Regions from separate parts of the Homo sapiens genome. Here all the other regions are linked to region 1. Evidence: fine-mapped expression QTL. A gene starts in region 1. Each other region holds a variant in brackets. All regions are shown on one strand. Distances are between the middles of the regions. Region 1 holds the start of TRIM33 (tripartite motif containing 33). Region 2 overlaps SIKE1 (suppressor of IKBKE 1). Region 3 overlaps TRIM33 (tripartite motif containing 33). Region 4 has its middle 34 kb from the start of BCAS2.

Region 1 (6,320 bases):
AGAGCCAATTTCATAACCTCAGTCCCTCAGCCACATCAGTCAAACACAATCTGTATTTCTGGGTTCCCTCTAAATCTCTTACCTAACCCAGGTTCCCACAAGAACACTGAATCCTATGTGTCTTACTATGGTCATGGGTGCACAGACCACCAGCAGTTATTCTCTGAACACCTACTAACAATTAGTAGCTTCTCCAACAACCAAAGCCTTACTCTTAACATTCTTACCTACATGTACCAATAATGCTAGAAACCCAAAACATCCCAATCTGAAAACATTTTATCCTCCCTACACCCCAGCCCTCACCCTCACCCCAGCCCTGCTTCAGTGTCTGAATATGTATTAATAGCATTGCCATCCACCAAACAAAAAATGTGGAATTCTACGTTTGTCTCCCTCACACCAATCTCAATACACTCCCCCCATCCCTCCATTCCCATAGCCACTATTAGTTACTACTATTAATATACTAGCTACCATTTCATTAGTAACTACCACGTACTAATCACTTTACACATTTTATCTTACTTCATTCTCTCAATAACCCTATGAGGTTATATACTTTTTTCCCATTTCACAAATGAGAAAACTGAAGCTAAGAAAAGGTCATCTGCCCAAGTCGTAAGTAGGAGATGGCAAAGTAGATTTCCAAACCCTACCGTTCCCCCAAACCAAAATGCTTCATTCTGTAATACCTGATATATCATTCCTTTACTACCCATTCCAAATGTTGATTTCTTTCCTAGATAACCGCCAGGATTCTCCTAACTGGTCTCCTTGTCTCCAGCCTTGCCTTCCCTCATCCCTCAAGTGCCCTAAGTGATCTTTCTGGATCAGAAATCTGATCCTTTTATCCTCTTGATATGAAAGCCCTCCAGGAACATCCTTCAGTCCACAATGTCGAGGATACACTCTACAGGATGAATTCCAAGCCCTTTAGTGCAGCTCCACAATCGCTTACCTACAGTCCCGAAATTCAAAAGCTTTGAAATTTTAATTTTTTTCATTGGTTTGCAACAGAACCCACTGTGAATGCTGGGAGGTTATTTATCGTCTATCCCATTAGCGTGACATTCACGTGTTTCAATGTAGAAACATTAACGTGTTTGATAGAGTTAACTCAGACCCTGATAAAAGTCTCACATAACAGACCTTGCCAGAAAAAAGAAAAATCCCAAAATATTCTGAAGTCCTTACACCTGGATCCCAAGAGTTTAAGAGACTGTGAAACCTTTATCTTTTCAGCCCATCAATCCAATCTAATTTCCACCAATCACCCTACACAGTCTTTAGTTCCAGGGATGTAGAAGGGTGTCCTGTGCCCTGAATACCCTCCAACCCAGTGAGGTACTCATTCTTCAAGAAACCTGTTCATGGATTTCCTTTCCTGTGAAATTTCCCTGACCTTTCCTCTATTGTGCCACAACCATTGTACTGAGGACTCACCTCCACTGCTGCAAGTTATATGTTTCTCCTGTTAGACTGTGAATGAAGTCTTCATTGAGTACTTTATTCAATCCTAGCACAGTGCCCCAACACTAGGGGCTCATTAACGGCCAATTAGCTAAAACAAATTCATGCCCAGCTTTCCCTAACTCTCAATTTCCTTCAAAGTTCATTTCTCCTTCATCCCCAAACCTTAGGATTTTCCCTAACCATGCAGTCCACTTTCCGAGTTTCTCTTTCCCCATGTCATCTTACAATTTTCTTCCAGGCGCCTTCTCTGGACCCCTTGCTCTCCAACATATTCTCTCCACCTCCATTTAATCCATAGTCCTCCTCTCTCCTATCTGTGAACACGCCAAGTCCCCTCCCTCCAAAGCAATCCATCTTCACTGCCCTTACCTCTTACCTACTCCCTCAACACCTCGCTGGCCCGGGCCCTTTCAGCCAAAACGCTTCCTCACAACGTGTTTCCCAAATCCCCCTTCTCTCACTGTACGGGTCTGCCAGCTCCAGAACCAGCGCTCGGCCGGGTTCCGCACATCACAAACCCTCCCTCGGAGCCAGTGTCCCCTCCCCCAGCCTCTCGCAGCCGGCACCCCTCCCTTCATGCTCCCCTTATCTCTTGCGGTCCAGCTTCTCTGGAAAGTGTCCCAGGGGCGAGTCTTTCACCTTAGAGACCCCTCGGGATGGCGCCCGTCCGAGCAGCCCCAGGCCCCAGCACCTCCGTCCCCAGCTCCTCTAGGGTTGCGCAAATCCCTTGCGGCCCAGATGCCAGGCAGGGCCTCCGGCTCACCTTGCTGGATGTCGCCGTTGCTGCCCCCCGGGATGGGCACGCTGAGCTGGCGCTCCGGCTCGGGCAGGCAGCGCAGGCAGAAGGAGTGAAGACAGGGCAGCAGCTTGGGCTCCGCCTCACGCCGGCTCTGCAAGCTCTGCTGACACACGGCGCAGGTGTCCAGGAGCGAGGCTGGCGGTCCAGGAGGCGGCCCTGCCGAGGGACCCGGAGCGGGAGCCGAGGCTGGAGCTGGAGCCGGCGTCGATACTGCGCCCCCGGCAACTCCAGTGCCCACTGAGGCCGCAGGAGATGAAGCAGCCTGGGCCGAGCCCGAGGAGGCCGCGGCCACCCCCCCGTCGTCGGGCCCGGCCGCGCCGCCCTCAGCGCCGGCCCTGCCGCCTTCCTCCTCCTCCTCCTCCACCAGCACCGCGGTGAGAGGCGGCTCCGCCTCCTGCGCGGCGGGCCCGGCGGCCCCGGCAGTTACCGGCGCGCTGCCGCTGCCCCCGCCGCCGCTCTCAGCCTCGCCGCCGCCTTTGTTTTCCGCCATGTTTTCCTCTTTGAACCCGCCGGACCGCCCCGCGCCGCCCGCCGCCCGCGTCGCCGCCGCCGCCGCCCCCAGCCCCAGCCGCAGCCGCAGCAAGAGCGGCAGCCGAGAGCTAGCGAGAGAGCGAACCAACGAGAGCGCGCGCGCACGCGGCGCCCCCGCCCTCGCGTCGCGCGTTTGAAGGAGGGCGGTTGCGGCACGCGCACGTACGCACGGACGTCCTCCCGAGGGAGGCGGGAACTCGGTTCGCGGGCGCGGAGCGGTCCCGGACCCTCGAAGCCAGTTCCTTGCGTCAGTGCCGCGGCTCTTTAACCCGAAGGGAGATTTTTTTTTTAAAGCCAGAGGCCGTTGACGCTGGGTAGCCTTTGGCTGGGGTTGGTTATGAACTCCGACACAGCGGTGGTGCATACGGAAGGGTGGTAGCCGGGACGGTTCCGGTCCCTGCGAGCGTGTCCCGGGCGTCTCCGCGGAAGTTTCACCTGCCGCGCCGCTCGATCGCCGGGACCTCCTGGGTCTCTGCTGTGCGTAGACCAGCCGCGTTCCTTTGGGTGGCCGTGGAGCACTAAAGCGGGGCTTATTGTTTGTTTGGTTTTGGTTTTTTTTTTTGTTTTTTTTTTGCTTTTTGTTTTTGAACTGAGGATCTATCAGAAATAGGCTGAAAAGACCGAGTGAGGAAGAAACTCTTTAACAGCTATTTTTGGCATCTTAAGGTGATTCTCAGGAGTTGCTACGTATCAGAATCAACGGAGGAGTTTTTCAAAGCAGAGATGCCAGGGCCAGTCCCCAGACCTGAATCAGGAAGTGAGGGAGAGAGCCGACGGAGGGGGAAAAGTCCCTTCAGCTGATTCTTATGTATGTCAGTTTGGAGAGCCACGGATATAACCAATACTGCGTCCTTCTGAGGTCCCACTTTAAGTGTCCTGGGTTGAGCTGGGTGACAAATGCCCTTACAACAATGGTAGTAGAAGCTTTCAGGCCAAGCGCAGTGGCTCACGCCTGTAATCCCAGCACTTTGGGAGGCCGAGGCGGGCAGATCACTTGAGGTCAGGTCAGGAGTTCGTGGGCAGCCTGGCCAATATGGTGAAACCCCGTCTCTACTAAAAATATAAAAATTAGCCGGGTGTAATGGCGTGCGCCTGTAATCCGAGCTACTCAGGAGGCTGAGGCAGGAGAATGGCTTGAACCCGGCAGGAGGCGGAGGCTGCAGTGAGCCGAGATAGCGCCACTACACTCCAGCCTGGGCGACAGAGCGAAACTCCGTCTCAAAAAAAAAAGAAAAGCTTTCAGAAAGTTGCCTTTTTATTTGAAAAAAAAAAAAAGGTATTTGGAGGATTTTATGTAGTGCAACAACTGTTTTAGTGTTAAGATCATGAAATGCTTTGGTCTCCTGTTAGTGTTCCCAAGAAAGGTGCTGTAAGTCCTTAAACCACGTGAAAACTTTTTTTTTTTTTGAGACCTCCTCGTTCTGTCGCCCTGGCTGGAGTGCAGTGGCGTCATCACATTTCATTGCAGCCTCGACTTCCCAGGCTCAAGCCGTGCTCCTCGCAATTACCTGGGACCGTAGATGCACGCCACCATGACTTAGCTGATCTTTTTTTTCCCTTTGCCTCGAAGAGGCTGGGGTCTCACCATGTTGCCCAGGCTGAAACTCCTGGGCCCGAGCGATTGGCCCGCCTCAGCCGCTGGAAATGCTAGCATTACAGGCATGAGCCACTGCGCCCAGCCTCCTGAAAACTTTTTAAAATTTATTCAAAAATGTTTCCTGACCTCTTTATTGTCATAGTGTTTTAGAGATACACTGGGATTACAAAACAGAGGAGCTCCCTGCATTCAAGGGGTTTACAATCTAATAGAGAAAAAGATTGAGAATAGATACATGCCAGGGAGTGGTAAGTGCTGTGAAGAAAAGAATAAGTGGGGTAAAAGGGGTTAGAGGTGATTGAAGAAGGCCCCTGTTGATCAGATGAAGGAACCTGTCTTGGAGAAGAGCAGGAGAGGAACACATAACAAGTGCAAAGGGCCTGAGGGAAACGGATTCTTGGCTTGTTAGAGGAGGAGTCAGTGTGGCTGGAGTGGCTTGAACAAGGGAGAGAATAGTAGGACATGAGATAAGAGAGTTATTAAGGGAGCCAGGTCATGTACAGAAATGGTCTTCAATTTTTTTTTTAACTTTTGTGCCCTTTGAAAGAATTTTGGAAGGCTGTTTTCTTTCCTCAAACATTGTAAGTTGACTAAATTTTTTCAGAAGTTTAAATAGTTGCAGAGTTTAATTTGTGACATTCTGTAATACTGACATTTAAAAATTATTTTTAATCTAATAGGGAAGTAAACACTAAAGTGGCTTAATACTATCCATTTTTTAAAGTATATTAAAATGTTATATTTTTTAAACATGGAAAAGTATTGGGAATGTTTTAATGATATGGCTGGGAGTCTTCCCCCTTCCCCTAATTATTTCGAGTAGGCATGAATGCATATAACATTGCTAGAATGAGATAAGGTCCTGTATCAACTCCATTTTTCATTGCCACAGTCTTTACTGCATTAAAAACTATATATGTATACATGTATGTATCTACACACTCACATATATGATGGAGTAATTCCCTTAAAACTACCCTTACTTTTTTATGTACCCCTTGGAAAATTTTCCTTCACTGAAGTACCCCAGGAGTACTCATACCCTAGCCTTAGGACCACTGAGTCAGATAGGAAGGCTTGGATGGGTTTTGAGCAAAGACTCAAAGCAGAATTGTGAAAAGAGTCACTGTGGCTGCTTCCTAGAGGAATCACCTGTAAATGGTCAGTGGAATAAGGAAGACCAGTTAAGGGGCTAATAGGGTAATAACTCGGTTGGTTGGATCAGGTTAGAATCTGTAAAGGTGGTGAAAAATATGGAGTATAAATCATAAACACTTCTTCTCAAATTCACTTCAAAAAAATAAGCTAATGAACTGAATTTCTCAACCAAAAGTTTTGCTTCCATGAGTTTTCTTAACCTTTTGATGCCTGCTACATTTGCCTTTATTAAAATCTAGAATAAAAGTGTTGTTTTTGAAAACTATATAATTTGTATAGGATGGAAACAGCCCCCATGAAGTTCACTGTGTGCTCTGAGAAGGCAGTGCCTGGAGTATAACTCATGAAATATTTAGGATCATTGAAACAGACCCAGTTACATCCTTGATTTTCTGTGGGAGCCCAGAAATCTTGCAGGAGAAACTATGAAATAAGTCCACAGATGAGGCTGAGATACGATAATGCACAAACCTGTCTAATAGACTGCATAGCATGGGGTTCATTATGCCCTGGGACAAAATGCTTGGTTTGAATCTGGTTCCATCACCTACTAGCTATGTGATTTAGGGAAACTTACTTAGGTTGCCTCAGTTCCCTCAGTCATGAAAGGGTGTTTGCTACGGGTAGGACCTACCTCAAGGTTGCCTCACAAACAATATTTGTAAAACGTTAATAACAGCACCCAGCACATGGTGAACATGGATGTTAAAGTAGACCCAAAGTTCCCTGAAGGAAACAGAACTGGCAGGAGAAACACAT
Region 2 (6,320 bases), 260 kb after region 1:
GCTACTTCAACTCCAGCTGTGGCTAAAAGGGGCCAAGGTACAGCTCAGGCCATTATTTCAGAGGGTGCAAGCCCCAAGCCTTGGCAGCTGACACATGGTGTTGGGCCTGTGAGTGTGCAGAAGTCAAGGATTGAGGTTTGGGGACCTCCGCCTTGATTTCAGAGGATGTACGGAAATGCCTTGATGTCCAGGCATTAGTTGGCTGTAGAGGTGGAGCCCTCATGGGGAACCTCTGCTAGGGGAGTGAAGAAGGGAAATGTGGGGTTGGAGCCCCCACACAGAGTCCCCACTGGACACTGCCTAATGGAGCTGTGAGAAGAGGGCCATCATCCTCCAAACCCCAGAATGGTAGATCCACTGACAGCTTGCACCGTATGCCTGGATAAGCTGCAGACACCTAACGCCAGCTGTGAAAGCAGCTGGGAGGGGGGCTGTACCCTGCAAAGCCACAGGGGTGGAGCTGCCCAAGGTTGTGGGAGCCCACCTCTTGCATCAATGTGACCTAGATATGAGACATCAAGTCAGACGAAGGAAATCATTTTGGAACTTTAAGGTTTGATGATTGGTGTAATGGATTTTAGGCTTGCATGGGGACTATTGCCCCTTCGTTTTGGCCAATTTCTCCCATTTGGAAAGGGTATATTTACCCAGTGCCTGTACCGCCATTGTATCTAGGAAGTAACTAACTTGCTTTTGATTTTATAGGCTCATAAGGGAAGGGTCTTGCCTTGTCTCAGATGAGACTTTGGACTTGGACTTTTGGGTTAATGCTGGAATGAGCTAAGACTTTGGAGGACTGTTGGAAAGGCAAGATCATGTTTTGAAATATGAGGATATGAGATTCGGGAGGGGTCATAGGCGGAGTGATGTGGTTTGGCTGTGTCCTCACCCAAATCTCATTTGGAATTGTAGTTCCCATAATGTCCACATGTCGTGGGAGGAACCTGATGGGAGGTAATTGAATCATGGGGGCTGTTACCCCTGTGCCACTGTTCTCATGATAGTGAGTGAGTTCTCACAATATCTAATGGTTTTATTTGTATTTATTTATTTATTTATTTTTGAGACGGAGTTCTGCTCTTGTTGCCCAGGCTGGAGTGCAATGGCACGATCTCAGCTCACTGCAACTTCGGCCTCCTGGGTTCAAGCAATTCTCCTGCCTCAGCCTCCCAAATAGCTGGGATTACAGGTGTGTACCACCACGCCCAGCTAATTTTGAGTTTTTTTTTTTTTTTTTTTTTTTTTTTTTTTTTTTTTTTACTAGAGATGGGCTTTCACCATGTTGATCAGGCTGGTTTTGAACTCCTGCCCTCAAGTGATCCACCCACCTCGTCCTCCCAAAGTGCTGAGATTACAGGCATGAGCCACCACTCCCAGCCTATCTGATGGTTTTATAAGGGGCTTTTCCCCCTTTTGTCAGCACTCATTCTCCTTGCTACCATGTGAAGGACGTGTTTGTTTCCCCTTCTGCAATGATTGTAAGTTTCCTGAGGCCTCCCCAGCCTTTCAGAACTGAAAGTCAATTAAACTTCTTTTCTTTATAAATTACCCAGTCTCGGGTATGTCCTTATAGCAGCACGAGAACTGACTAATACAATTATGAAATAAAACTTTCACTACTTAGAATTTTTATATTTATTGAAAGGGCTATTTTAAACTTTTTTTTTTTTTGGAGACAGGGTCTCAGTCTGTTGTCCAGGGTGGATTGCAGTGGCATGATCTCAGCTCACTGCAGCCTCCATCTCCCAGGCTCAAGCAATCCTCCTGCCTCAGCCACCTGAGTAGCTGGGACTATAGGCATGCACCACCACGCCTGGCTAATTTTTGTATTTTTTTGTAGAAATGGGGTTTTGCGATGCCCAGGCTGGTCTTGAACTCTTGGGCTCAAGCAGTCCTCCTGCCTCAGCCTTCCAAAGTACTGGGATTACAGGAATGAGCCACCTGTGCCCTGCCTAGACATAGATTTAAATCATGTCTCCCTTTTGTGTGTATATGAAGTAAAAAAAAAAAAAAATGGCAAAATAAATTTGTTAAGGTATTCCTAAAACTTCTTCACAAAGTCTAACTCTTCTGAATCTCTTTCTTTTCAGTAATAAATTTGACCATATTTTAAAAATTCCATTCATCATGAGGCAACATAAAAAAGTTTAAAAAATCAACAGACTAGTATATTTGCATTATATAAAAAATGTATTGGTATCATGAATATATAATACATTAATAAGAAAAAGCCAAAAGGAAAGAAAAGGAAAATGGAGAAAATACTTGAAGGTCCATATTTTTTTTAAAACCTGTATAGGCAAATACTTGAAATTATACCCAGCCTCATTAGAAATCAGGGGGATGAACTTTTTTTTTTTAGATTTTTACACTTACAGAAGAGGTAGAAAAATAGTACAGAAAGTTTCCATAAACTCTGTACTTGCTTCTCCTATTTTAACCTTACATAACTATAGAACAATTTTCAAAACTAGGAAATCAACTTTGACATGATAATATGACTTGAAATACAAAATTAATTTGGGCTGCACCAGTTATTCCAACAATGTCCATTTTCTCCTCCAGGATCAAATCTAGGATCCCACACTGCATTTAGTTTTTATGTCTCCTTTGTCTCCCTTCTATGACAGTTCTTTAGTCTTTGTCTTTTACAACTTTAACACTGAAACAGGCTGGGTGTGACGGATCATGGCTGTAATCCCAGCACTTTGGGAGGCCGAGGCGGGCGGATCACTTGATGTCAGGAGTTTGAGACCAGCCTGGCCAACATGGTGAAACCCCGTCTCTAGTAAAAATACAAAAATTAGCTGGGCGTGGTGGCAGGCCCCTGCAATCTCAGCTACTCTGGAGGCTGAGGCTCTAGAATTGCTTGAACTCAGGAGGTAGAGGTTGCATTGAGCGGAGTGAACTCAGGAGGTAGAGGTTGCAGTGAGCCTGGGCAACAGAGTGAGACACTGACTCTCTCTCTCT[C/A]TCTATATATATACTTTAAAACAGTATCAGTCAGCTATTTTGCAGATTTCCCTCAATTTGGTTTTGTCTGATGTTTTCTCTTGATTAGATTGAGGTTATACATTATTTGGAACACTACAGAGGTTATGTGCCTATCATTGCTCAATATCAGGGGTATATAATGTTGAAGTGTATTATTACAATTATTATTATTGAGATGAGGTCACGCTTGTCGCTCAGGTTGGAGTACAGTGGCATGATCTCGACTCACTGCAGCATCCACCTCCTGGGTTCAAGCAATCTTCCCACCTCAGCTTCCCAAGTAGCTGGGATTATAGGCGCCCACCACCACGCCCGGCTAATTTTTCCATTTTTAGTAGAGACGGGGTTTCACCATGTTGACCAGGCTGGTCTTGAACTCCTGACCTCAGGTGATCCACCCACCTCGGCCTCCCGAAGTGCTGGGATTACAGGTGTGAGCCACCTTGTCCAGCCATTGAAGTGTATTATTAATGATGTTTACCTTAATCAGTTGATGTCTGCCAGGATTCTCCATTGTAAAATTACTACTTTTCCCTTTGTAATTAGTGAGTATTTGGGGGCAGGGCAATGCTTTGGTAATGTACTGAATTGAATAGTGTCCCCCCTAAATTCATTCCCACCCAGAACCTTAGAATATGACCTTATTTAGAAATAGGGCCTTTGTGGAGGTAATCAAGTTAAGATAAAGTCATACTGGATTAGAGTGGGCCTGAATCCAATGAGTAGCGTCCTTAGAAGAGAGAATTTTATACACTGACTAGAGACATGCAGGGAGAATGCCATATGAAGACAAGAGATTGAAGTGATACATCTAGAAATCAGGGAACAGGAATTGCCAGCAACCCCAGAAGCTAGGAGAGGGGCATGGAACACATTCTCCCTGAGACTTCTAGTCTCCAGGACTACGAAAGAATAAATTTGTTTTAAGCCACCCAGTTTGAGTTCATTTGTAATGGCAACTCTAGGAACTAACGCAAACGTATATAAATATCCTGTTTTTGCTTAAATTTTAGCCCACTATTCATTGGTGCATCTTGCTGAATCTTTCTGGTTCATAGATATCCAGGTTTTCCCACATAGAATTATTTTGAGCCCACCAAGAACACTGATAATGTAGCATTTCCTCAAAGAGTGCTTCATGGTTTCCAGGATTTTATTCTGAGCTGCTAAAAGCCACTGGAGTAGGTAGAATTCCAAGCTGGCCACCAAGATTCCCACTGGTGTCGTACGTGTCTTGTATCATCCCATCTTAAGCATAGGTGAAACGTGGATACGAGAAGCTGTATCACTTATATCTCTTTTATGGCAAAGGGATTACTGCAGATATAATTAAGATCTCTAATCAGTTGGGTTAATCAAGAGGGAGATATTCTGGTTGGACCTGACTTAGGTGTATTCTTAAAAGGGAGTCTATTTGCCGGGCATGGTGGCACATGCCTGTAATCCCAGCTACTCGGGAGGCTAAGGCAGGAGAATTGCTTGAACCCGGGAGGTGGAGGTTGCAGTGAACTGAGATCACGCCATTGCACTCCAGCCTGGGCAACAGGACAACGGGAGCGAAACTCCGTCTCAAAAAAAAAAAAAAAAAAGGAGTCTAGAGGTGGGAGACAAGAAGTCAGAGATATTTCCTGTTGCCCTTGAAGAGAGTCTTCTAGTTGTAGAGCTGTACTGAAATGGATTTTGTCAATAATTACGTGAACGTGGGAGAGAGACTGGAGCCTCATACGGGATGCTGGCTTCAGCTGACACCTTGATTTTAGCCTTGTGAGTGCAAGAGAGGAGAACCCATTTGAGCCCTGCATGGACTTCAGACCTACAGAACTGTGAGATAATACGTGGATGTTGCTCTAAACTGTTATTTGTGGTAATTTGTTATATAGCAGTAGAAAACTAATACAGCCAGCCATACTCCAAATTTGTGTGGTGGCACACTCTTGATAAAAAGGTGTCAATGGAAAGAACAGAAAATGGCCAAAACCCATGTTCTTTTTTCACATGGTCCTGAGTTTGACTGAAATATTCAGATTGCCTTTGTCCAGTCATCCACCATAAGTGCAAACCAATTTTGTATATGCTTACAATCAACCACATCGGAACCTGTACCTGTGTAAGACATATCCCAATATCAAAGATGTTAAAATAAGAAATAGAAATGAATGTTACAATCAGTAACATACAAACATTCATCAATTAGTTCCACACATATTTATACGAGCCTAGATGAAATTTTGAGTGAAGTTGTAGCTAATTGAAACTCTGAAGGTTCTGCCTCCTCTTCAGCATTACAGGAGTGACAAAACAAAAAGCATTATCTGCTTTTTCCTATATTAGCAGATAATACCCCTTAATTCACTCTGAAAGTTGCCATGAGATATTATCAGTGAAATAACTGCAGAATGTGAAATACGTCATCTTATAGTTAAATGTGTTTAATATAAATGAGACACAGGAAGGGAGAATTAAAAATTAGTAAGTAAAATATTAGCAAGGATTTTTTTAAAAAATGTATAATTTATTATATATGTATGTATTCCTTAACAATATGTTGTATAACCCAACAATGAAATATACATCAATGAAAATGACAGCTATAAAACAATAAAACTTGTGAATTCTAGAGACATGTTGAGTGAAAAAAACCAAATCCTTAGACTACATAGAGTATGATACAATTTTTTTGAAGTTCAAAAAGAAAGAAAACTATAAAATAAGTCACTTTAGGGATACATATGTATTTTAGGTCTTTCTACATTCGAACAAATCTATTAAAAAGAGAGCGGGGGGGTCGGCAAAGATAGGAGAAGAGCTCAAATAGATAAAATACAAGCACTCATAATGTTATTCTTAAGTTAGGTGATGAGTTATTATGCTTGATAATTTATTTGCATTCCCCATTTACCCTTTTATAAGCATCAAATATTACATTTAAATATAAGTCCCAAATTATGTATAAAGTGTTGATAAAATTTATATCTGCATGGCTGTTCCTAAAACTATGCTTATTTTATCAAGCAGAGTTCTTGGTTTTAGGCAATTCAGGTTAGTTTTAATAACAGCAAAAAAATGATTTTATTAAAAGTAATTCTCAGGATCTCTAGGACAGCCAGCAAACAAGAATTAGAGGTTACAGGCCAGGCACAGTGGCTCACGCCTATAATCCCAGCACTTTGGGAGGCCAAGGCGGGCGGATCACCTGAAGTCATAAGTTCGAGACCAGCCTGGCCAACATGGAGAAACCCCATCTACTAAAAACACAAAAATTAGCTGTGCATGGTGGTGGGCACTTGTAATCCCAGCGACTTGGGAGGCTGAGGCAGGAGAATCGCTTG
Region 3 (6,320 bases), 110 kb before region 1:
GAAACCATTATATTCAAGAGTACGTGTTGAATCTGAAATGTCTATGTAAACTGTGGCATATAAATTTTTTTCCTTAAAAAAGTACCTTCAATTTTTTTACTCAAACACTTACTTTTAAAAAAATATGCAACTTTCCCCAATTTTTAAAATAAAATGCCACAATATAGTGTCATTACTTCCAGCATACATTTAAATTTCTTAATTTTTAAAAGATAGACTGGGTGATATGCATACAAACTTTCCTATAAAATCACCATCCAGGAGAGGATTCTGACATGCTATTAGGCAACAGACTCAAAGCAGTGTTATTGCTTTATCAAGGAGGAGATTAACTGTGAGGGAAAAAAAATTAAATATCCAGGTCCGGTACATGATCAAACTGTATTACACCTTGAAAATCTTGAGTCACCTTCAGCAGATCATTAACATAGATGGTACAGAAATTAAGAATTCATGGTATGAATTAAGAATCTGTTTTAACTAAGGGAGTTGGGTGCGTGGATTTTTTATAAAACTACTCACTGATCCGATGCTGAGTATGCAAATAAGCAGTGCTGATTTTGACAAGAAATGAGATTTTTATATTTCACATGTTGTACATGAATGGGGGTGGATATGGGACGTAAAAGCCAAGGGAGACGGGGCCACAGCATCTACTCCCATTTTGGATAGTAAGAGACCATTTAATAACATACAGTAGGCCACAATCCAAGGGCATAGTTGGAAGACCTGAATCTATTATCTTATTAACACTAATCACTAATAATTACATGGCAGGATACCTGCTGAGGTAATTGATAAATCTACAATTTGCACACTTATAAACCTTTTACTTCTATTTAAAAGCATTATTTATTTCAATTAACTAAAAATTCCAAAACTTATCACAAAAAATGAGACAACTGACTTAGCATTACCTAAAATTCCCTTATGTTAAGATACAGAAGTCAGAAAGTACCAACTTGTTGATCCAAAAATAATAATTTCAATAGTGGATCCAATGCCTTATCATTTCTCTGTAGTAATGGTTTGATGTTTCCATATAGAGCACGACCTACAATCTAACCATACTTTAGAACTTTCACATGCTTTGCCTCATAAAGCAATTCCTTCACTCAGTGAATTGGCTGAGCCAAGTGCTGAAAACACAAATTTAGGTCAGCGGAACAGACTGAGCAACACTTTGTTCTTAGTTTTCTGATGGAAGAAGTAAATTGAAGTACAGCAAAAACTTTAAAAGCTTTTAAGAAAACATTATTATGTGGACTTTTCTCCAAATCTTCTAAAATACTGCCATTTAAAAAACAAATACAAATGTGAGAGAGTATAAAAACAAACTGCCTTCAGGGACTGACAGATACAATTTTGTCTTTTTAAAACATAAACTAATAGGAAAACATATATCTAAATATCAATTTAAGTTTTTATACTTTTTAACCATAGGTATATTAGAGCTGAAAAAATCAGCTTAGAAACACAACGATCAGTGTGCAAGAAAAAAGCTTTAATAAAAAATCTAAAGTGAATACCTTAATTTAATGGTGGTATGTTGATAGCTATTAATAGTAATTCCTCAGCAGTATACATTATCTTAACAGAAGTGGAGGCTATTAAATGTTGACAAAAAAGTGGCTTTTAAATTGCTTTAACCAATCTTAAAACCAAAAAAACCTAAAAACTCTATCTAACATGTAATTTTAAGGAAACACAATTATTTTTTAAGGCCCCAAATACTGAAAAATATTTACTTAAAATGTTTCTCCCCTCAGTTGGCAGAATCTATTTATGACTCATTATCTACAATTTTTTTAAAAGGATCCATTTGAAGAGCAATACAAAATATTAGAACTCAAAGGCCTGACAAAATGAAGTTATACTGCTGCTATTCCTCACTTTCCAAAAATGTGCCCTTAGATATATGTCTACTTACAAACTGAAATCATGGATTTTGTGAAAAAAGAGGGAAATTGGCATAGGCATAAGTATTTTTAAATAATTTTCTCCCTCTTATTAAAAAACATTTTTAGGAATTTAAAATTTGAGTAAAATGTTTCAACAGTTTGGTATATTTTCAACGGCTTAAATTATTTTTTAAAAATTGAAAGAAAAGTGAAAAGGAAGCCAGGAATAAAGTAAATCAATAGTAATAATAAAATCAATACTCTTTAAATACACAACCAGAAAGCCTGAATCATATTCCTGTTTACCCCCACCCCTTGTTAAGAAAAGAAAAACAACCCAAAGGAATTTGTATAATAATTTCTTTAGAGCACTTTATTTGATTCAATATGCATTAAAAAATATTGACCTCTTAGACAATTACGTGAAATAATTTTCTGAGTAGTCTACTCTCTGAACTGCTTAAATGAATTTTTAAAAAGGCAAATAAATGATTTGCCACAAATCTGCTGACTTCTGAAAAATATCTAACAGCAAATTCTTCTATTTTGGTCTCTGAATATTCTAATGTGTCCATACAAAAGTAGGACTAAAATCTTTAATCAAACAAAAGAGAAGCCTGTAACAGTGTAGAACACACATTTTGAATCTGAGCATCACAAATGAAGAAAAGAAAAATGAACCAGAGCCAAGTTGGTTTATCGGCCTCGGGTGCTGTAATTGGGGTGGTAAAGGTGGGTTTACTCCAGTAACCATTCAAGTGGGGATTGGCTCATTTTCAGGATTTACTTACAGGTCTCTTCTAAGTCCTTTAAGCCCCCAGTCCATGCAAATGTCCCACTTGGTGGACAGATGAGTAATCTAACCCCACCGGGTTTATTTCAATATTTCGATATTTCAATAATAAGCTGCTTCTGAAGATTTTTTGAGAAGTCTGTTCTCTATTAAAATAAGATAGAACCTCAAAATATGAATGTGAACATTAGAAATAGACAGCATATATTACAAATCCATTCTTGATAGGAACATTAGTAAGAATACACATTAGCTTAAAAAACAGGCTCAGCAAATGTTGCTGATCTGCCAAAAGTTTTAGTTCACTATTTACAAATAAGACAAAGTGAAATACAGAAAATTTTACACATTTGGTAGTTGACAGATACTGTTTGCCAATAGTGGTCTATCAGAAAACTGACATGAAGGAAGACTGGAAAAGAGCCAGTTGTCACCTTCTCAAATTTAAATGTACAGAAAACTAGATTAATTTTGAAACAAACATTCTGCCTTTCATGGGAATAACTGTATGATCACATGATTTGATTGGGAAGTACAATTGTGAGGAAGTGTTTTCTGGAAACAACTACTATAACTCTAAATAATCCACTAATGAAAAGTTACCATTTTTGTTTCAGTAGACCATTGAAGTTGATTAAATGATAACTAGTGGTAGTGTTTCCTAAACCCTAAGTATGAGTAGAAAATAAAACCATTGCTGAGTTCTTTATATCAATTTAAAAACTAAGACCCAACAGCATAAAAATGAGAAAAAACA[T/C]AATGGCATGATTCAATGCAAATCTGCACTGACATTAAAGTAGAATCTGAGCTACTTGGGTTTTTAACTAGAAAACAACCTGATATGTATGTGTGTGAAGGGGGAGGGTTAAAAGTTGTTTTAATAACTGTGCGACCTAGTCCAAAAAGAAAATTTATCAAGTGACACGAGTCTCAAGTATTTACTCGTATACCAAGTATCCTGCACCAATCAATAGCACACAATCATCAATATTTGCCATTTCTAACAATCAGAGAATCATCTCCATTAGAACAGAAATCCTCAAATCATTTCACTTTTGCTTTTTGCTTTGAAACTTGCAAACAGACTTCTCTCCCCCTTTCTTGACAAGAATGTGTTTCTGTCCATTATTTCAATCTAATACTGTGTAAAAGCTATCAGCTTCTTCAAGGAGGTGCCCACTGTAGGCAGGATATTCCAGCAACACTTAAAAGTTTTCTGGGTTTTTTGTGTTTTTTTTTTTTTTTTCGTTTTTTTTTTTTTAAACAATTGATTTAAATCCATGTCATTTTACTTTATATGTACTGGTCTCTCATCTGACTTTAGGCGTTTTCTGCGGGGCTGTATAAAGTCTTCATCAGAGTCCTCAGTTACCTCACCATCATCCTCTTCCTGCTCAAACTCTGGCAAAGGTGCGAAGGTCCTGTCTGAGTAGATCTCTGTGAGTTTATCTTCAAAGTACAATGCAACTGCTTTCCCTGCCTGAGCTACTTCTGAATCAGCCTGCAAGCAAAAGATAGGAATATTCACCTATTGGTAATGCATATTCCTTCACCAAGTTTGCATGGTCTGAAAAGCTTACCTTCAAATTAATCTCTTGTGTGTCTGCATAAACTTGAACAACTTTCATCATCTAAAAAGGATACCAGAGTCAAAAAAAAAAAAGGGAAATTATAATCCTTTCTAAAGTTATGAGACTGCATAGGATTGGCGACGAAAAGTCAGCCATACTAGGGAGAACAAATTGCTATAACCAGATAAAGTGCTTTTCTAAAATTCTACAGAACATGGAACCATTTTCTTTACAAAGCCCTGTTACTAAAGCTACTGTGAAACCTCAGTAATTGTCTTATTTTGAATTATCAAGGTCAATCTGAATAGGAATTGGTCTGAACACATCAATCTATCCAAGAGAAAAATATTTGTGAAGCATATTATACAAGAAACGTTGCTTTAAAAAACTGACAAACTTTCAACAAACCACTTAATAAAAATTCTATCTGTATAGCAATATGTTAATCATAAACTATTTATTACTGAGGCAGGAAACATGGGTCTTCTTATCAACTATAGTTCATGAAAGCATATTTATTTGAAAATAATTTAACTGCACTGAAAAATAAGACAGAATTTGGGACTAAATATAACTTCAAACTAGTGAGATTTTACTAATATACTCTGTGCCATACTGCTATAAAGGTGACTTAGAATTTTCACCTTATGAGGATTTTGTTTTGTTTTTGATTTTAAAATGCCATCTGGATGCTTCCAGAGGCAGCTATAGGAATACGTTACAGGATCCAATGTGATTTATTTTAGTAATAATCATATGGCACCCAAATTACACCAGCAATAAAGAGACTTTAGTATTAATCTTTTAAAAGATTTTGTGGATTCTCATTAAATTCCATTTTCTTCTCCTACAATGAAACTCTTCCATAACAATAATAGAATCGATTTTATCCCTAATAAAAACAATTTCCCTGAAACAGGTATATAATACATTTCTTCTCAAGGCATGGCTAACTCAAACTTACCCTCAAAAAAAAAAAAAAAAACAAAACAAAACAAAACAAAAAACAAAAAACTCCCCAAACCAAAAAACATAACCAAAATTAATCAAAGTCACACTGCTGAAATAAGAAAACTTAGTATTATATACTCTGGGCTACTATTCAAGATGGGTCACCAGAGATTAGTTTGTTATTTTAAGGTTCTACATTCATGTTGTCAATAATAAAATGCAAGGACATGGGTACAGATAACTTTCCTAATAGTACCCAAAACGTAAGCTGTTTATAATCATATTCCACAAAATATACGTAACTACTGACAGTACTTTCCATACTTATGCCAATCCTCAACTCATTTAGAAAAGGATATTTGATAATATTCTTAATTTATTATATTTAAGTATATACTCCAAATTATACACAATAAATTTTCTTCACTGGAGCTGTTAATACAATCAGATGTTACTTTTGACAGGACTTTAGCAGAAAAAAAAATTTTAATAAAATTAAAGTCAGCAGAAAAATAAAACAAGGAAACAAACAAAAACTAACAAATCAAGACTCTATAGGTTGGAAGTTAACATACTTCATTAAACCTTTCACAGTTCTTGAAGATCAAACGGACATCGGCCACAAAGTCATCCGGGATTTGGTAGTGTTGGGAATGTTTTTTCTGAAGCTTCTTTTTCACGGTGGATAAATCCATTGGTTTCTTTATAATTTTATAGTAGTTTGGTATCTAAAATAAGCACATAATGGCAAATAAGAATTCTCCAAAAATGCCAAACTGTTTAATTTGAAAATGCATAGCATATTAATTTTAGGGAAAAAAATTATTATAGAGCCAGCTGCTTGCAAATTTTGAGTATAGACGTATGTACTTTACATCTTCATGAAAACCAAATCTTATGTGGCATATGTGCCAATCTTCATGGTTAGTCCAAGTCCCCAAAGTCCTACTTTTAATAATAAGATTTGGAAAGAAAGCAATTAGCAAGGGTAACCAACCAGTAGCCTTGAGGCAACATTTGACTTACCAGAATTTTATGACTCCTTAGGAGTTTTTCTTTTTTTTTTAAAGAAAAAAATTTACAAAATATATTAATGTTACAATT
Region 4 (6,320 bases), 36 kb after region 1:
CTGCTCTAAAAATCCTCTGTTCTGTACCTATTCATCTCTTCCTCCTCTCAAACCCTGGAAATTGCTAATTTTTTACTGTCTTCATAGTTCTTCCTTTTCCAGAATGTCATATAGTTGGAATCATATGGTACAATATGTATAGAGCCTTTACAGGTTGTTTTTTTCACTTAGTAATAGATATTTAAGTTTCCTCCATGTCTTTTTAGAACATGGTAACTCATTTCTCTTTAGCATGGAATAATGTTCCATTTTTTGGATATATCAGAGTTAATTTATCCATTCACCTGTTGAAGTACAGCTTGGTTGCTTTAAAGTTCTGTCAATCATAATTAAAGCTGCTATAAACATCTGTATGCAGGTTTCTGTAAGGATGTAAGTTTTCAACTTATTTAGGTAAATACCAAGGAGTACAATTGCTGGATGCTATTATAAGAGTAGGTTTAGTTTTGTAAGAAACTGTCTTCCACAGTGGCTGTACCATTTTGCATTCCTTCCATCAATGAATGAGAATTTCTTTTGCTCCATATCCTCATCAGCATTTGAGCTTCTAGATCCTAAATAGAAAAAGATGAGAGTTTATAAAAGTTTTGAGTGAAAAAATACCCTATAAAACCTATTATTTGATTAAAATTCTCCAGGCAAAGATCACATTAAGGAGGTGGTTTCATACCTATTATTAAAACTCCTTAGTGCTTTAACGTGCCTCAGGGCAAATTCAGATCAAAGGTATAATGCCAGTAAAACCTGTCATTTGAATAAAGCCTTCAGAGCAGAGATCAGATTAAAGGTGAGACCTTTCTATCTCTTATTCTGATAAAGGTACCCTCCATTAAACTGAAAAGCCTACTAAAATCCCTCCCCAATATTCATTTGAAAAAATAAAAAACCTACAGAAAAGTTGTAATGGTACAATAAATATCCATATACCCTTGACCTAAATCCTTGAATTGTTCACAGTTTGACACGTTTTCTTTCTCTCTCTGTCAACCCATGTGCATGCATAAACACACACTCACACATTTTTGCTCAAGCATTTAGAAGTTAGCTGTAGACAATATGGTGCTTCACCTGAAAAACTTTAGCACACTTCCAATAATAAGGATGTTACCTTATATAAACACTATGTAGTAAAGAATTTGGCTTTGCCCAAGTAGAAGTTCTGGCCTTTGCCCTAGGCTTCATGGATGTAATCTCTGGGTACTTGGAATGTTATGCCTGACGGGACAGTCTTTGTCAGGGCACCTTGTGTCAGACTGGATATTCTAACAATGTGATTTAGGGCTGGGGCTGGCCAAACCAGAAAGACTCACATGTTATTTAGGGTGAAGGCGCTTTGGTTTTTAGGGTTTTTTTTCTTTTTTTCCTTATATTTTTATTTTTTCTCTAGGCCATGTTCTCATCGGAAGGGTGGGGGCTCTGGTTGATGTAGTATCAGTTGACCTGGAGTTTGAGATCAACCACATGGACAATTAGTCAATCATGCCTATGTAATGAAGTCCCAGTAAAACTCTCAACACTTAGGCCTGGGTGAGCTTCCCTGGTTAGGAATACTTGGGCATATTGTACACATCAACATTGGAAGACAGTTTCAGCAAGAAAAAAAAAAGACATGCATAGATAGGAAGATAGATAAATAATAGGTAGGTGATAGGTAATATATATAAATATATATATATATAGAGAAAGAGACATTGCAAACGTAGCACAATACTAGCAATTGGATGAATCTCGGTGAAAAGTACGTGGGTGTTCATTCTCTTATTCATTCGCGGAGTAATGTGTTCTGACTCTATGAAGAGAGGACGAGGGAAGCTCCACATTTGGTACGTCCCTGACTTGGCCCTATGCGCTTCTTCCCTTAGCTAAATTTAATCTGTATGTTTTTCCTGTATAAACTATTACCATGAATATAGTAGTTTTCAGTGAGTTCTGTGAGTCCTTGTAGAGGATTATCAACCTGAGGATGGTTTGGGGAACTCCCAGACTTGCAGTTGGTGTCAGAAGTAAGAGTGGTCTTTTATAGCTACTATTCCCCCTGACTTCCTAGTTGGCTAGGAATTGATGCAAACACAATATAATTTCACATTCTGATAATTTAACATTGATACAATACTATATATAATACATATTATTATTTATTTATTTTGAGAGACAAGGTCTTGCTATTTTGCCTAGGCTGGTCTCAAACTCCTGGCCTCCCACCTAGGCCTCCCAAAGTGCTGGGATTACAGGAATGAGACACTGTTCCTGGCCATCTAATACATATTCTTTATTCAACTTTTACAGAGGGAGCACAAAAAATTTTCTAGAAAACCCTGTGCATGTAGATGGGGCCTGTCAACTCTGCCCTTCACTGTAGAGTAATCTAGCTGGTTCATTTCAATGATGTCTTTAGATCTTTAGATCTTTTCTCTCGGCCAGACCAGATTTTGCCAGCAAAGACCCTTATAATCTCCTTCCAGAAGGAGGCTGCTAGCAGAGTGGGGAAAGAGGGCTGAGGGATTCTTCCTAAGTATATAAGCTCTCACTTAATCTTTCTTCTTTCAAGATTGAATCCTTGCCCTTGACAGTACTAGGTGTTCCCAGTCAAGCAATTCTCTATTTTCCCCCTTTTTGGAAAACATGCTTTCTGCCTTCTGTCTGCCCAGCCAGCTTGTATTGAAGATGGGGATTTGAGCCTTTCACTGCTTCTTTAAAGTTAAGGTAGAACAGGGTCTAACTCCTTCTTAAAGTTAAATTCGAAGAGCCATAAAGACATCTGGGGGACATTGAGACTGTACATTTAAATAATATTATTATATCTGTGTTTATTTTATTTATTTATTTATTTATTTATTTATTTATTTATTTATTTATTTTGAGACAGAGTCTCACTCTGTCACTCAGGCTGGAATGCAGTGGCACGATCTCGGCTCACTGCAGCCTCCGCCTTTGCTACTTGGGAGTTGAGGCAGGAGAATTGCTTGAATTCTCCTGCCTCAACCTCCAGAGTAGCTGGGACTACAGAAGCACGCTAATTTTTGTATTTTTAGTAGAGACAGGGCTTTGCCATGTTGGCCAGGTTGGTCTCGAACTCCTGACCTCAAATGATCAGCCTATGTTGGCCTCCCAAAGTGCTAGGATTACAGGCGTGAGCCACCGCACCTGGCCCAATTTCACTTTTTACCTCACAGTCACCCCCACTCCCAGAGGTCACTGGTGCTACCAAATCCTGGGTCCAGAAGGTTGTGTGGATAAACAAAACTGCTTTTTAACTTTCATATTTTGCTTTCTCACTGTTGGTTTAAGGTTTAGCTTCTTTGCATCTGTTGAATCAGTTACCCCTCTTCCATTTGCATTCCATCTTCTCCAATTTCTTGCTGTTGTCTCATCTCTCATTTTCTTTGTCTTTGTGGATTTATGCCTTGAAACAAAACAAAGAACAAAAAACTTTTACTAAATGTTGTAGTGTGATTTTGGGAGGTAGTAGAAATAAATGTAAACATTCACTTCACTTTCTTTAGCTTGAAGTTTTCCACCATTTTTTTATTTTTTATTTTTGGAGACAGAGTCTCGCTTTGTCGGCCAGGCTGGCGCAATCTCAGCTCACTGCAACTTGTGCGATGGCGATTGTGCAAATTGTGCGATGCAAATTGTGCGATGGCGCAATCTCAGCTCACTGCAACTTCCAC[T/C]TCCTAGGTTCAAGTGATTCTCCTGCCTCAGCCTCCTGAGTAGCTGGGACTACAGGTGAGCACCAGCAGGCCTGGCTAATTTTTGTATTTTTAGTAGAGATGGGGTTTCACCATGTTAGTCAGGCTGTTCTTGAACTCCTGAGCTCAAGTGATTGTGCTGCCTTGGCCTCCCAAAGTGCTGGGATTATAGGCATGAGCCACTGCATCCAGCCTCTACTATATATATATATATATATATATATATTTTTTTTTTTTTTTTAATTTCAGTTAGTTTTCACAAACGACAGAGCTCCAAGGTCATAATGTATTTCAGCCTTGTCTCTGAGAGTAGCAAAAGTAGTTCACACATATTGAAACAAAGCTATTCACAGCAGTTTAAATTATTTTAAAAAAACTTTAATTTTGAACAATTTTAAACCTACAGAAAAGATGAAAGGATAGTATAATAAACACCCACATACTTTTCACTTGGATTTATCCAGTTGCTAGTATTGTGCTATATTTGTGTTATATATATATATATGCTTATCATCTATTATCTATCTTCCTATTTATGCATGTCTTTTTTTCTTGCTGAAACCATTGAAAGTAAGTCCTAAACATCATAACGCTTCATCCTTAAAACACTCCAGCACGTATCTTTGAAGACCACAATACCTTTATCTTACCCATGAAATAAAAAATTGATGCAATATTATGTAAATCTGTAATACCCAAGTGTGTCCCCAAAATGTCCTATTGCTGTTCTAACTTAATATTTTCCCCTTAGCTATGACTTGCTCACCTCCCTTCCTCCTTGGTTTTCTCGGTACTGCCAGGAAAGGTGGGGCCAGTGAGAGTCAGCGTACTTTGGCACCACTCTCATCCCCTCTCAATTCCACAGCCTCAGCGGTTACCCAGTTTCTGCTTGAGAAGTTGCTCAATCTAGTGTTAGTTGTGGCTTGAATGAGTCCTCAGTCTTTCTTCAAATCACTAGTTTTTTAACTCAGGTATTTTTATCCCAGATATCAGTGTCTACTGGTTTAAATTTCGTTCTTTTTTTTTTTTTGAGATGGAGTCTTGCTCTGTTGCCCAGGCTTGCTCTGTTGCCCAGGAGTGCAATGGCGTGATCTTGGCTCACTGCAACCTCCACCTCCTGGACTCAAGCAATTCTCCTGCCTCAGTCTCCCAAGTAACTGGGATTACAGGCAGGTGCCACCACTCCCAGCTAATAATTTCCTTCTCTTATAAGCTTAGTTAACTTGTTTAGAAAACCTTGGGAACCTGAAGAAAACCCCAGGAACCTGGGCTACTCTAGCAAAAACTGATAGAAGCACCCATAGATTATGTTTTTGGCCTCATCAAATGTTTATATGTTTTCAATTTACTGTGCCAAACCACTTGAAGTCAAGATGTGAGTGGACAGTGAATTGATACCTCTCTACTATAAAAAGTCACAACATTTTGGGGTTCCTGCTCTAAGGATGATCTGAGAACCATCCTAGAAATCTTGCAGCATTTATCTCTGCTTGCATTTCATAAAAATTCCCCCAAATTACTTTAGGAGCTAGGACTTTGAGCCAATTTCACTTCTGATACCAGTCTGTATAGATGTAAAAAAGTAATGATGGCCTGGGCATGGTGGCTCACCTGTAATCCTAGCACTTTGAAAGGCCAAGGCTGGCCAATCACTTTGAGCTCAGGAGTTGGAGAACAGCCTGGGCAACATGGCAAAACCCGGTCTCTACAAAAACTGAAAAAATGAGCCGGATGTGGTGGCTTGCACCTGTAGTCTCAGCTACTTGGGAGGCTGAGGCTGGAGGATCGCTTGAGCTGGGAAGTAGAAGTTGCAATGAGCCAAGATTGTCCCACTGCACTCCAGCCTGGGCGACAGAGCGAGACCATTTCTTAAAAAAAAAAAAAAAAAAGCAATGATGGTATGATTAACTAAAAGACACCAACAGAGCCAAGCCAACAATACAAGTTTCTTTAATGTAGGTAAACACACAAGAATTTTAACAGCTTGAAAACATAGAGGACACAGCCGCATACTCAGATAGAGAGGTCAGCTTCCCTGCTCTGCAGGTTCCCCCCTGAGGTCAGATGACTTTTGCTGAATTTACCTGATGAGGGTTGAGATACCATCAGATCTTTCAAGAAGCTCTCTTGCCATTCTCTTAGAGTTTTTTTTAAAGCCTTGGTTCCCCTCTAGCACTGGAAATGGTAGCTATGTGTCTGCCTGCTCACTAAGTGCAAGTAATTGGTGATAACTCCAGCCCATTGCTGAATGTGAACTTGAGAAAAGAAGGCTGATTTTTCAGGCGTACCATCCCTCTTAAAACCCTAAGTTTTAAGTTGGTCAGAGGATAACCTTTGCAATGTAGACACTAGAATTTGTTCAAAAAGGGTGAATAGGATCTTTTTTAAAAAATGTAATATATAAAAACCTTTTAAATTATTAGATTGTCTCATTTTAAATGTTTTCCCCATTTTGTGGTTTTTAAAAATTATGGTAAAATATACGTAACGTAAAATTTACCATTTTCTACATTTTTAGGTGTACAGTTCACTGGCATTAAATACATTCATATTGTTGTGCAACCATCAGCACCATCCATCCAAAGAACTTTCATCGTCTCTAATTAAAACTCTTCTCTACCTGTTAAACAA

Evidence for each region.
Region 2: its variant is fine-mapped to the expression of TRIM33 in whole blood (INTERVAL, PIP above 0.99).
Region 3: its variant is fine-mapped to the expression of TRIM33 in whole blood (INTERVAL, PIP above 0.99).
Region 4: its variant is fine-mapped to the expression of TRIM33 in whole blood (TOPMed, PIP above 0.99).

The regions. Positions count from the first base shown.
Region 1 is chr1:114,508,312-114,514,631 of GRCh38, forward strand. It overlaps TRIM33 (tripartite motif containing 33), which reads right to left and starts at 2,892. Exons shown (of 20, transcript NM_015906.4): 1 at 2,240-2,892. The coding sequence starts at 2,765. LOC124904348 (a long non-coding RNA gene) reads left to right here and starts at 3,027. Exons shown (of 2, transcript XR_007066452.1): 1 at 3,027-3,614. RefSeq lists silencers at 2,429-2,728, 2,759-2,868 and enhancers at 3,059-3,228, 4,089-4,851.
Region 2 is chr1:114,763,997-114,770,316 of GRCh38, forward strand. It overlaps SIKE1 (suppressor of IKBKE 1), which reads right to left. Exons shown (of 5, transcript NM_025073.3): 5 at 5,483-6,320. Among named protein-coding and RNA genes, the nearest start is that of CSDE1, 9.2 kb to the left of the region's middle. The variant C/A (reference allele first, on the strand shown) is at 2,971.
Region 3 is chr1:114,393,666-114,399,985 of GRCh38, forward strand. It overlaps TRIM33 (tripartite motif containing 33), which reads right to left. Exons shown (of 20, transcript NM_015906.4): 18 at 5,792-5,944; 19 at 4,275-4,325; 20 at 1-4,195. The coding sequence ends at 3,983. Among named protein-coding and RNA genes, the nearest start is that of TRIM33, 110 kb to the right of the region's middle. The variant T/C (reference allele first, on the strand shown) is at 3,452.
Region 4 is chr1:114,544,795-114,551,114 of GRCh38, forward strand. No RefSeq gene overlaps it. Among named protein-coding and RNA genes, the nearest start is that of BCAS2, 34 kb to the right of the region's middle. The variant T/C (reference allele first, on the strand shown) is at 3,672.